3 separate regions of the Homo sapiens genome follow, and regions 2 and 3 are each linked to region 1. Evidence: fine-mapped expression QTL. A gene starts in region 1. Each other region holds a variant in brackets. All regions are shown on one strand. Distances are between the middles of the regions.

Evidence for each region. PIP is the estimated chance that this variant, and not a neighbour inherited with it, causes the effect.
Region 2: its variant is the best candidate, but not a certain one, in a credible set for the expression of UBXN6 in whole blood (INTERVAL, PIP 0.74).
Region 3: its variant is the best candidate, but not a certain one, in a credible set for the expression of UBXN6 in whole blood (INTERVAL, PIP 0.79).

Annotation. Positions count from the first base shown.
Region 1 is chr19:4,456,386-4,459,137 of GRCh38, reverse strand. UBXN6 (UBX domain protein 6) reads left to right here and starts at 1,344. Exons shown (of 11, transcript NM_025241.3): 1 at 1,344-1,523. The coding sequence starts at 1,441. RefSeq lists an enhancer at 1,083-1,282 and silencers at 1,393-1,442, 1,473-1,542.
Region 2 is chr19:4,501,205-4,503,945 of GRCh38, reverse strand. It overlaps HDGFL2 (HDGF like 2), which reads right to left. Exons shown (of 16, transcript NM_001001520.3): 15 at 2,629-2,741; 16 at 1,739-2,035. The coding sequence ends at 1,936. PLIN4 (perilipin 4) reads left to right here. Exons shown (of 8, transcript NM_001367868.2): 8 at 1-1,754. Among named protein-coding and RNA genes, the nearest start is that of PLIN4, 16 kb to the left of the region's middle. The variant A/G (reference allele first, on the strand shown) is at 1,757.
Region 3 is chr19:4,389,827-4,392,578 of GRCh38, reverse strand. The region is part of intron 1 of SH3GL1 (SH3 domain containing GRB2 like 1, endophilin A2); the gene reads left to right. Among named protein-coding and RNA genes, the nearest start is that of SH3GL1, 9.3 kb to the left of the region's middle. RefSeq lists enhancers at 1,352-1,960, 1,961-2,567, 2,568-2,752. The variant A/G (reference allele first, on the strand shown) is at 1,357.

The DNA.
Region 1 (2,752 bases):
GGCCAGGCTGGTCTCAAACTCCTGACCTCAAGTGATCCGCCGGCCTCGGCCTCCCAAAGTGCTGGGATTAGAGGCATGAGCCACCACGTCTGACCCCCAACTCCCATTTTTTGAGGCTTGTTTTAACTGTCACTTTGTGTATCTTCTTTGTGGATTGCACAGACCAAAGTACGCCACTATTAACTGGTGTCCACCAAAGTGGATCCCCAATCCCCAGGTCCCAATTGGGTGCATTGGGTGCATCCTCTTTTTTTTTTTTTTTTTTTTTTTTTGAGACGGAGTCTCGCTCTGTCGCCCAGGCTGGAGTGCAGTGGTGAGATCTCGGCTCACTGCAAGCTCCGCCTCGCGGGTTCACGCCATTCTCCTGCCTCAGCCTCCCGAGTAGCTGTGAGTACAGACGCCTGCCACCATGCCCGGCTAATTTTTTGTATTTTTAGTAGAGACGGGGTATCACCGTGTTAGCCAGGATGGTCTCGATCTCCTGACCTTGTGATCCGCCCGCTTCGGCCTCCCAAAGTGCTGGGATTACAGGCATGAGCCACCGCGCCCGGCCCAGGTGCATCCTCTTAAACAGCTCCTACCTAGGGTACGTGGTGATGGTGGCGGGGGGGTGCTTCAGGCACCAAAACAGGCCAGATCGTGGGGGCCTCCAATACCCAACATTGAATTGGGATTTTATCACGTAAGCTCTGGGGAGACAGAGAAGGTTGGAATTTTTTTTGTTTTGCTTGAGACAGGGTCTCTCTCTGTCGCCCAGGCTGGAATGCAGTGGCTTGATCACAGCTCACTGCAGCCTCGACCTCTTGGGTTCAAGCGATCCTCCCGCCTCTGCCTCCCAAGTAGCTGAGAGGCGCGCGCCACCACCCTCGGCTAATTTATTTTATTTTATTTTTTTTTTTTTTATAGAGACGAGGTTTTGCCATGTTGCCAGGCTGGTCTCCAACTTCTGGGATCAAGCAATCCTTCCGCTTGAGCCTCCAAAGTGCTGTGATTGCAGGCGTGAGCCACCGCGCCTAGTTTAGGTTGAGCAGCGAAAGGGATAGGGCCCAGTGCTTTCTCTGCGAGGTTCAGTTGGCCTGTCCCTGTCCTATCACCGTTTGTCACCGTTTGGGGAGCGCCACGGAATGCCCTGTCTCCAATCGAGAGGTGCACTCGTCGCCCTGGCAACGGAGTCCGGAAGAACCACAGAGACGCGGCTCCAGCGTACAGAGCGGCCGCCCTGGGCCAGCAAGGCACCGAGCGCTAGAGAGGCACGTCTAGTCGATTGTCACGTGGCAGGCCAGGGGAAGGCGGGACTTCCGGCGGCGAGGTAAATTTTTTTTTTTTTTTTTTTTTTTTTTTTAATTTTCTTCCGGTGGCTGGTCTCCGGCGGCCCCGTCCCCGACTGGGCCCCGTGCCCCCCCGCCCCCGCGGCCCCCCGCCGCCGGGCCAGCCGCCACCATGAAGAAATTCTTTCAGGAGTTCAAGGCCGACATCAAGTTCAAGAGCGCGGGACCCGGTCAGAAGCTCAAAGAGTCCGTGGGGTGCGTGAGGAACGCAGGGGCTTGAGGCCCTGCGGGGCGGGGACGGCCGGGGAGAGAGATCTGGGGCCTTGGGCGGCTCGGGAGATCGGAGAGGATGAGGGGCTGGGAGCGGCACGCGAGGGTCAGGGGAGGGGGAGAGGCGCCGGGGGCGGACGAAGTCGGGCCGAGGGTGGGCGTCAGGGGGAGGGGAGAGAGATCTGGGGGCGGGGCAGGAGGGGGCGGGTATGACCCGGGGGCGCGGCGGGGGAGGCGAGGGGAGGGGAACTAGCGCAGGGGGCGGGGCGGGAGGGGAGGTCTCGGGGGCGGGGCCGCAGGAGGGTCCGATGCAGTGGCGGGGGATTAGGGCGACGGGGCTGTAGGCAGTTGGGGGTCAGTGGAACGACCTTTGGGGAAAAACGGGATCATGAGTCCTGAGCCGGGTGGTGAGGGAGAGCTCTGTCTGGGGACCCGGCTGGCCGAAGAGGCCGGGATGATTTGGGGCAATCTAGGTGACCATGGATGGGAGCTGAGCTTGGAGGAGGACGCACAGCTGTGGGGTGGGGTGGTGAAGAGTTGTTTTGAGGTATCCATGGGAAGAGGGGTTCTGGATTTGGTATCTGGAGCACGTGGGAGGCTGATGGGAGACTAGAAAGAGTCTGGAAGGCCAGGGAGGCCGGGGTGGGCAGCGTCGTCAGTGACCTGGGATGTCCTGGCGAATTGAGAGGGAGGGGCTGAGGAAGGTGTGTGAGGAGAGTGGAGGTGAGGGATTCTGACAGATGGACTCTTACCCGGGAGGGGCCTGAGAGGAGAAGACGGGTGAGACAGACGCGTCTTAGCAGGCTGGGAGAAAGAGCTTCTCTGCGAGGCTTCTCTGCCACGTCACTGTGCCAAGTGGATTATGGAAGTGGGAGAGGAGGGGAAAGGAGATAGATGCCGGGCAGGCTTCCGGATTGTCTAGGGAGGACTTGGAGAGAAGGGCCTGAGCAGGGCTGAGCCAGCTGGGAGGGCCGGGGAAGAAGTGGAGCTAGGGAAGGTGCAAGGCTGAGGGCTGTTGGGTTGAGAAAAGGGAAACTGGAGAGCTGGGGCCGCTGCAGGGAGCTGGCTGGCCAGAGGGTGGTGGGGACTGATGGAGAGGGACTGAGGAAGTCAGCCAGGCAGCCAGGACACGGGTCTGTAAGCAATAGTGGAAGGGATTGTGAGGGAGTGGGGGCTGGGAGAGGCAGGGAGGTGGCAGGAAGTGGGGGTCAGGA
Region 2 (2,741 bases), 45 kb before region 1:
TTGAGGGTCTTAAGAACCACATTCCCTCATAGTAGAAAGTACTAGAAAAAGCGACACTGCCATCATCATCCCAAGGCAGGCTGCTACTGCCTTTGCTGACCCCCGGGGTGGCCTCACGGTGGGGACAAAGCTGCCAGGAGCCACAGCAGCCACAGCTGGGGCTTTGCACCAGCCTGGCTTGAGACTGAGCAGTTTGCAGGGGGTGGGGGGTGCAAAAAACAAGCAAACAGGCTGCTGCTGCCTCCAGCTGCCCACCACAGGCCTGCCCCAGGCACCTGGGGCTCTGAGGCCCCTGGGGAGGCTGGGCCCAGCAGCTGCCCCTGGAGAACACAGACAAAGGACTTCCCCGCAGGGAACTGTGCCCTATGGAGGGATCAGACAGGGCTGGGAACAGCCACAGAGGCTGCGTGCCTATGGCACAGCCCTTCCTCCGCCGCACACTCCCCCTGGGTCCTCAGGCCCACCCAAGCGCCGGGCTGCAGAGGAAGCGGGGCTGGGGAGGCTGCAGGCATCAGAGACACTGGTGGTGGCGGACCCGGCCGCCGGGCCCCGTGCTCTCAGGCTAGCCCAGGTCGTGGAGGCTGGCAGGCTCAGGTCGGGTGTGAGACGTGCCGTGGCTGCGCTCAGTCCAGCGGGGAGGAGCCGTTCAGCCCGGCCTCCCCAGGAAGCCATATCCCCACTCACCCGGTAAGAGAACCTTGTCGTCCCCTTTCCATGCTCTCCTAGGACACGAGCCCAGGAACCCCAGACCCAGGGGGAGGAAGGGTGGAGGGGCCCCAGGGGTCACCGTGTGCACCAGGGGCCGTGAGGGGCCGGGGCATTCAGCTCAGCTCTGAACCGGGGAAGCTGGCACGGCAAGGACTGCCTCAGGTGACGGGCCGTGAGAGGGGACGGGTCAGGAGCCTTCCCAAGCCTTCTCCTCAGCCCGACACCCATGGCCATCGGAGGCTAGGATGCCAGACACAGCCATTTGCAGAAATCAGGCACAGTGACTGCAGCTCACGTCCAGCCAACCAAGCATGGGGCCGCAGCTCAGGAAGTCCCTTCCCGCCACACCACAGCCTAATTCTTACTGGGACGGAGGCAACTCGGCTACGCTGGGCAGGACGACAAACACGAGACGCCACTGTGGAATGAGCAACTTCGGAGCACGGGGTGACTTGCTTGGGACCGTGCCCACGTGACAGCCCCTTATGCAGAGGAGGAAAGAGAAGCCCCGAGTGGGAGGGGAACCTGTCCAAAGTCACACGGTGTGTGGGTGACACAGCTGGGGTGAGTCGAGGCTGGCCCCTGAGGCCCATGCTCCCTGAACGCTGGAGACCACTGTCGGCTAGCAGCGGCTCTCAGGGAAGGCCTGGTCTCCACCCTCCCAGCCTAGCCTCGCGGACCCTCGTCCTCCCCACATCGGACCTGCTCACCTGCCTGGACCCTGGGCTGCCAGATGCAGGAAGCATCAAACCCCCCAGCCTCGTGGGTGCGGGGCAGGGCGCAGGCAGCACAGCTTAGATGCCCTGGTTTGTCCCTCTTGTCTCCTGGGAAGAGCTTGCTCCCGCCCAGCTCTCCTGCCACTGGCCTTTCAGGGTTGGGCTGGGCCCAGAGTGCCTTTTAGTCGCTTCTCACGGTGGCCTGATGGCTCAACCCAGTCCCAAACGGGCCCAGTGACACTGCCGCCTGCGCCCCAGCTCAGGCCCCCACTGCACCAGCAATGCTAGAAAACCAAGCCAATAAAAGTGATTTCTTTTTTCATTAAAAAACC[A/G]TTTATAGTCATTTCATGTTGGTTGGAAATCACAGAAATTAGGCAGGAAAAAAAAACCCAAGGGAACAAATACAAACAGCACAGCGTTCCCCACAGTTCTCTGCTCTGCTCTCCTGCGAGCCGGGGAAGGAGAGGGGCAGCCTGAGCTCGGGCGGGGGCTGGGCCTGGCTGCCCGCGGCTCAGCTCTCCTCGTCCAGGGCCTCCGAGTCCCCCCGTGCCCTCTCGCGCTCCTGCCGGTCGCTCCCAGGCCTGTCCAGGTCGGGACCCTCCCGTACGCTGCTGGTGGGAACAGCAAAGGCGGTGTGAGGATGCCCTCCCGCCCCTGCCCTGCCTGTAGGGCGGTTGGGTGGGATGGGCACCGAGGAGTGTACCCCCGTTGTGGCACCTGAGGCTCGAGTGCCGCCCTCCTATCTGCCTGTCTTCTGCCACTAGAGACCACAACCATCTCCAGGGTCCCCACGCTGGCGCCAGCCAGGCATAGCACAAGGCAGCTGCTGGGTAAGTGAGTGACTCCACTGAGCCTTGTACCAGACAGCAGCCCACAGTGATGGGCACAGGCACCGTCAGATAGCCGGGTGCCCGTGCTCGGGGCCTACCTACCTGGGCCACCCTGGAGGCTCGGCAAGAAGCCACCTTCCCAGGAGGCCAGGGGCAGGCAGCTCAAAGCCCTGGAGCTGCCTCTCTGTAGGGGCCGCCGGAAGTGCCAGCCAGCGGGGCCCTGGGGTCAGCTGTGAAGGTGGGAGGCCCGAGTAAGGACGACATCCCTGGGACCCATCCCAGAGGGACTGGCACAGGAGGAGCGGCTCGGACCCAGGGTGCGCGTCACACCGCTGCCGCTCAGGAGTCCAAACCCCACGGCCCGGGACACTCACTCGTGCAGGTCTTCAGAGGAGCCACACCTTGGCCCCTCCTCCGAGTCCCGACCCTCCTCGTGCTCCTTGTCCTCTGCGCTCTCCCCCTTCTGTGATGTGGCCTCGCCATTCAC
Region 3 (2,752 bases), 67 kb after region 1:
TGATCTTTTGTGTGTGTGTGTGTGTGTGTGTGTGTGTGTGTGTGTGTGTGTGTGTGTGTGACGGAGTCTTGCTCTGTCCCAGGCTGGAGTGCAGCGGGCCGATCTCAGGTCACTGCAACCTCCGCTTCCTGGGTCCAAGTAATTCTCCTGCCTCAGCCTCCTGAGTAGCTGGGAATACAGGCGTGCGCCACCACAGCTGGCCAATTTTTGTATTTTTAGTGGACACAGGGTTTCATCATGTTGGCCAGGCTGTTGTTGAACTCCTGACCTAGTGATCTCCCTGCCTTGCCTCCCAAAGTGCTGGGATTACAGGCGTGAGCCAGTGGGAATAATCTTAAGATACAAAAATATGGGGTTCATAACCCCTTCACCTTGGCACAGATAAAAGTGTATACCCTTGTGCTGGGAGTGACAGGTAGTTGAGAGGCACTTTTGTGTGGGCTGGTAAGGGCCGGCGTTGGTGATTCAGAGGCTGTGCCCGGGACAAGGCCGGTGAGTCCAGCAGCTGCAGGCTGACCTCCGGAAGCCCCCTCTCCCTCGGGGAGGTGTTGGCAACAGATGTAGGAAGGGACTTTGCTTTGTGATGTCCACGTATGATGGGAATGGAGTTAAGTCCGTTCTTGCAGGAAGCTCTGGTGACTGAATCCAGGAACGTGCGGCATGTACTGGTGTGTGCCTTGAGGCATTGGAGCCGGCATTGGAGCCGGCGGCGTGGACCCTGGGCCACCCCAGGACAGGCAGGGCTCACTCTGTTTCTGGCTTGCAGACGGGTGGAACCAGCAGCTGTGTGGAGGCCTGAACTGTGTGCCAGCTGGGCTGTGCAGACACAGAAGTTTGAGACTGCCTTTCCCCAAAGGAAGCTAGAGGCTCCTTACACCCCACGGCTCCCCGGGCCTGTCTGTGAAACCTGGCTCACCTGGCCCCCTTCACAGGGTTGGCTGTTGGTGGTCACTGGGCACTTTGTAACCAAGCAGCATCCTACGTTTTCCCATTCTTAACAAACCAGGACCAAGGGGTCATCAGACTCCGATTTCTGCCACCCGTGACTGCTGTACAGTAGGTCCCAGAACAAGTCAAGGGCTGAAAGTTCGGCTAAAAGTTTGTCTCTGACTCAGAATCCCGTGTTCACCAAAGACCAGTTGGGGCTCCGTGGGTGCTGATCGCCCTGCTTATCTGGGTGTGTGTTAAAGCCCAGCTCTGCAGTACTTAATTATATTCCAGGTGCCCCTAATAACAGCCTGTGAGTGCGAGATGAGGTGTCTCACCTTATGCCGCTCAGTTGAAGAAATTGGGGGCTGTCACATTTTGACACCCCAGACCTATCAAGCACACAGAGAACATGACACTGCTCACCCC[A/G]CCCCTGGCCACCCAGGGGTGGCCGCTGTCACGTGCGCAGTGCACCTGAGGTCTGAGCTGGCAGCTGGGCCCCTCAGATGTCTGTGTGTGTGTCTGTTGCATTTTTTCCTCAAAGGAGAAACCTGCAGGTTGAGGCCCGTCCCGCTCAGACCTGCCTGTGTCTCTGTGTCCAGTGGACTTTAATCCAGGGGCCTAGGGTACAGCCAAGCCTTCACTGCTGCCTTAGCCCTTTTCCTCCTCCGTGATTGTTTCCAGTGTTTTGCAACTGATCTGATCTGGGGAAACGTCGTGTTTAATTTGGAGCATGCTGCCAACGTCCCCAGTAGGATTTCGGAGGCAGCCGCAGGTTTCGGCGCTGCCCGGGGCAGAGCTTAGAGGAGAAGCTCAGAGCGGCCTCCATGTTTCTCTTTTCCAAGCCCCTGAGGTCTTTAAGTGCCGGGAGGGTTGGAAGGGGAAGCATTGCCCCGGGGTGGGGGTGGGGTAGGTGTCAGGAGCTCAACAGGCTCTGGAGGCATCTCAGCAGGACCTGAGCTCTCCAACTCTAATGGCTTTTTAATGTGTGAGCTGAAGTGTCAGGGGGCGGTCTCTTCTGGTTCTTTTTCGAAGCTGTCCCTGGAAAGCGGATGAAAGAATGTGGTGGCCAGGGCTGCAGCGGGTTTCCCTCTCTCCCTTCTCTCCCCTCCTCTCCCTATCTCTCCCCCCTCTTCTTCCTCTCTTTCTGTTCTCACTCTTCCCTTGTCTTTCTCTCTGTCTCTCCCTTCTTTTGCCCTCTCACCTCTTCTTCCTCTCTCTCTGTCTGTCCTCTCCACACCTTCTTCCTGTCTGTCTGCCTGCCTGTCTCTCTCTTTCTCTATCTCTCGCCTTTTGCAGGGCTGGATTTGGCAAGCACTTTTCCTGAGCACTGCAGCTTGGTGCGTTTCTGCTCATTTCCTGTTAAGCAGTACCCAGGGCTCCCTGAACTCAGGCTCTGGGAGGACGGCCCTGTCTTCCTTTTCCTCTCCACTCCTAGAAAAACCTGCTGACCAGGCCCTGAGAGCAGGGTCACGGGGAGACCTCCTCACCACAGCAGGAAGATAGACGGACAGTTTCCTCCATTGGACCTGACTCAGCAGCGGCCCACTGACCGCCTGGGAGGGGGCTCCCGCCTAGCGGGCCGCAGTTCCACACCTGGGTAAGGGGACGAAGCACCCAGCAGGGGTCATGCCGCGTGTGACACAGTCTGTAGGGGCGGTGGTCATGGCAGATACTCAGAATCCAGATGGCATCAGGCCTGCGAGGGCATGGGGTGAGTGGGCCCACTCCCCTCCCTGGGCCGGGAACATGCGTCTCCTCTGCCCTGGCCCCCAAGTGGACAGCTCCCCACATGGTTTCATGCCAATGGGAGTGATTATTCCAT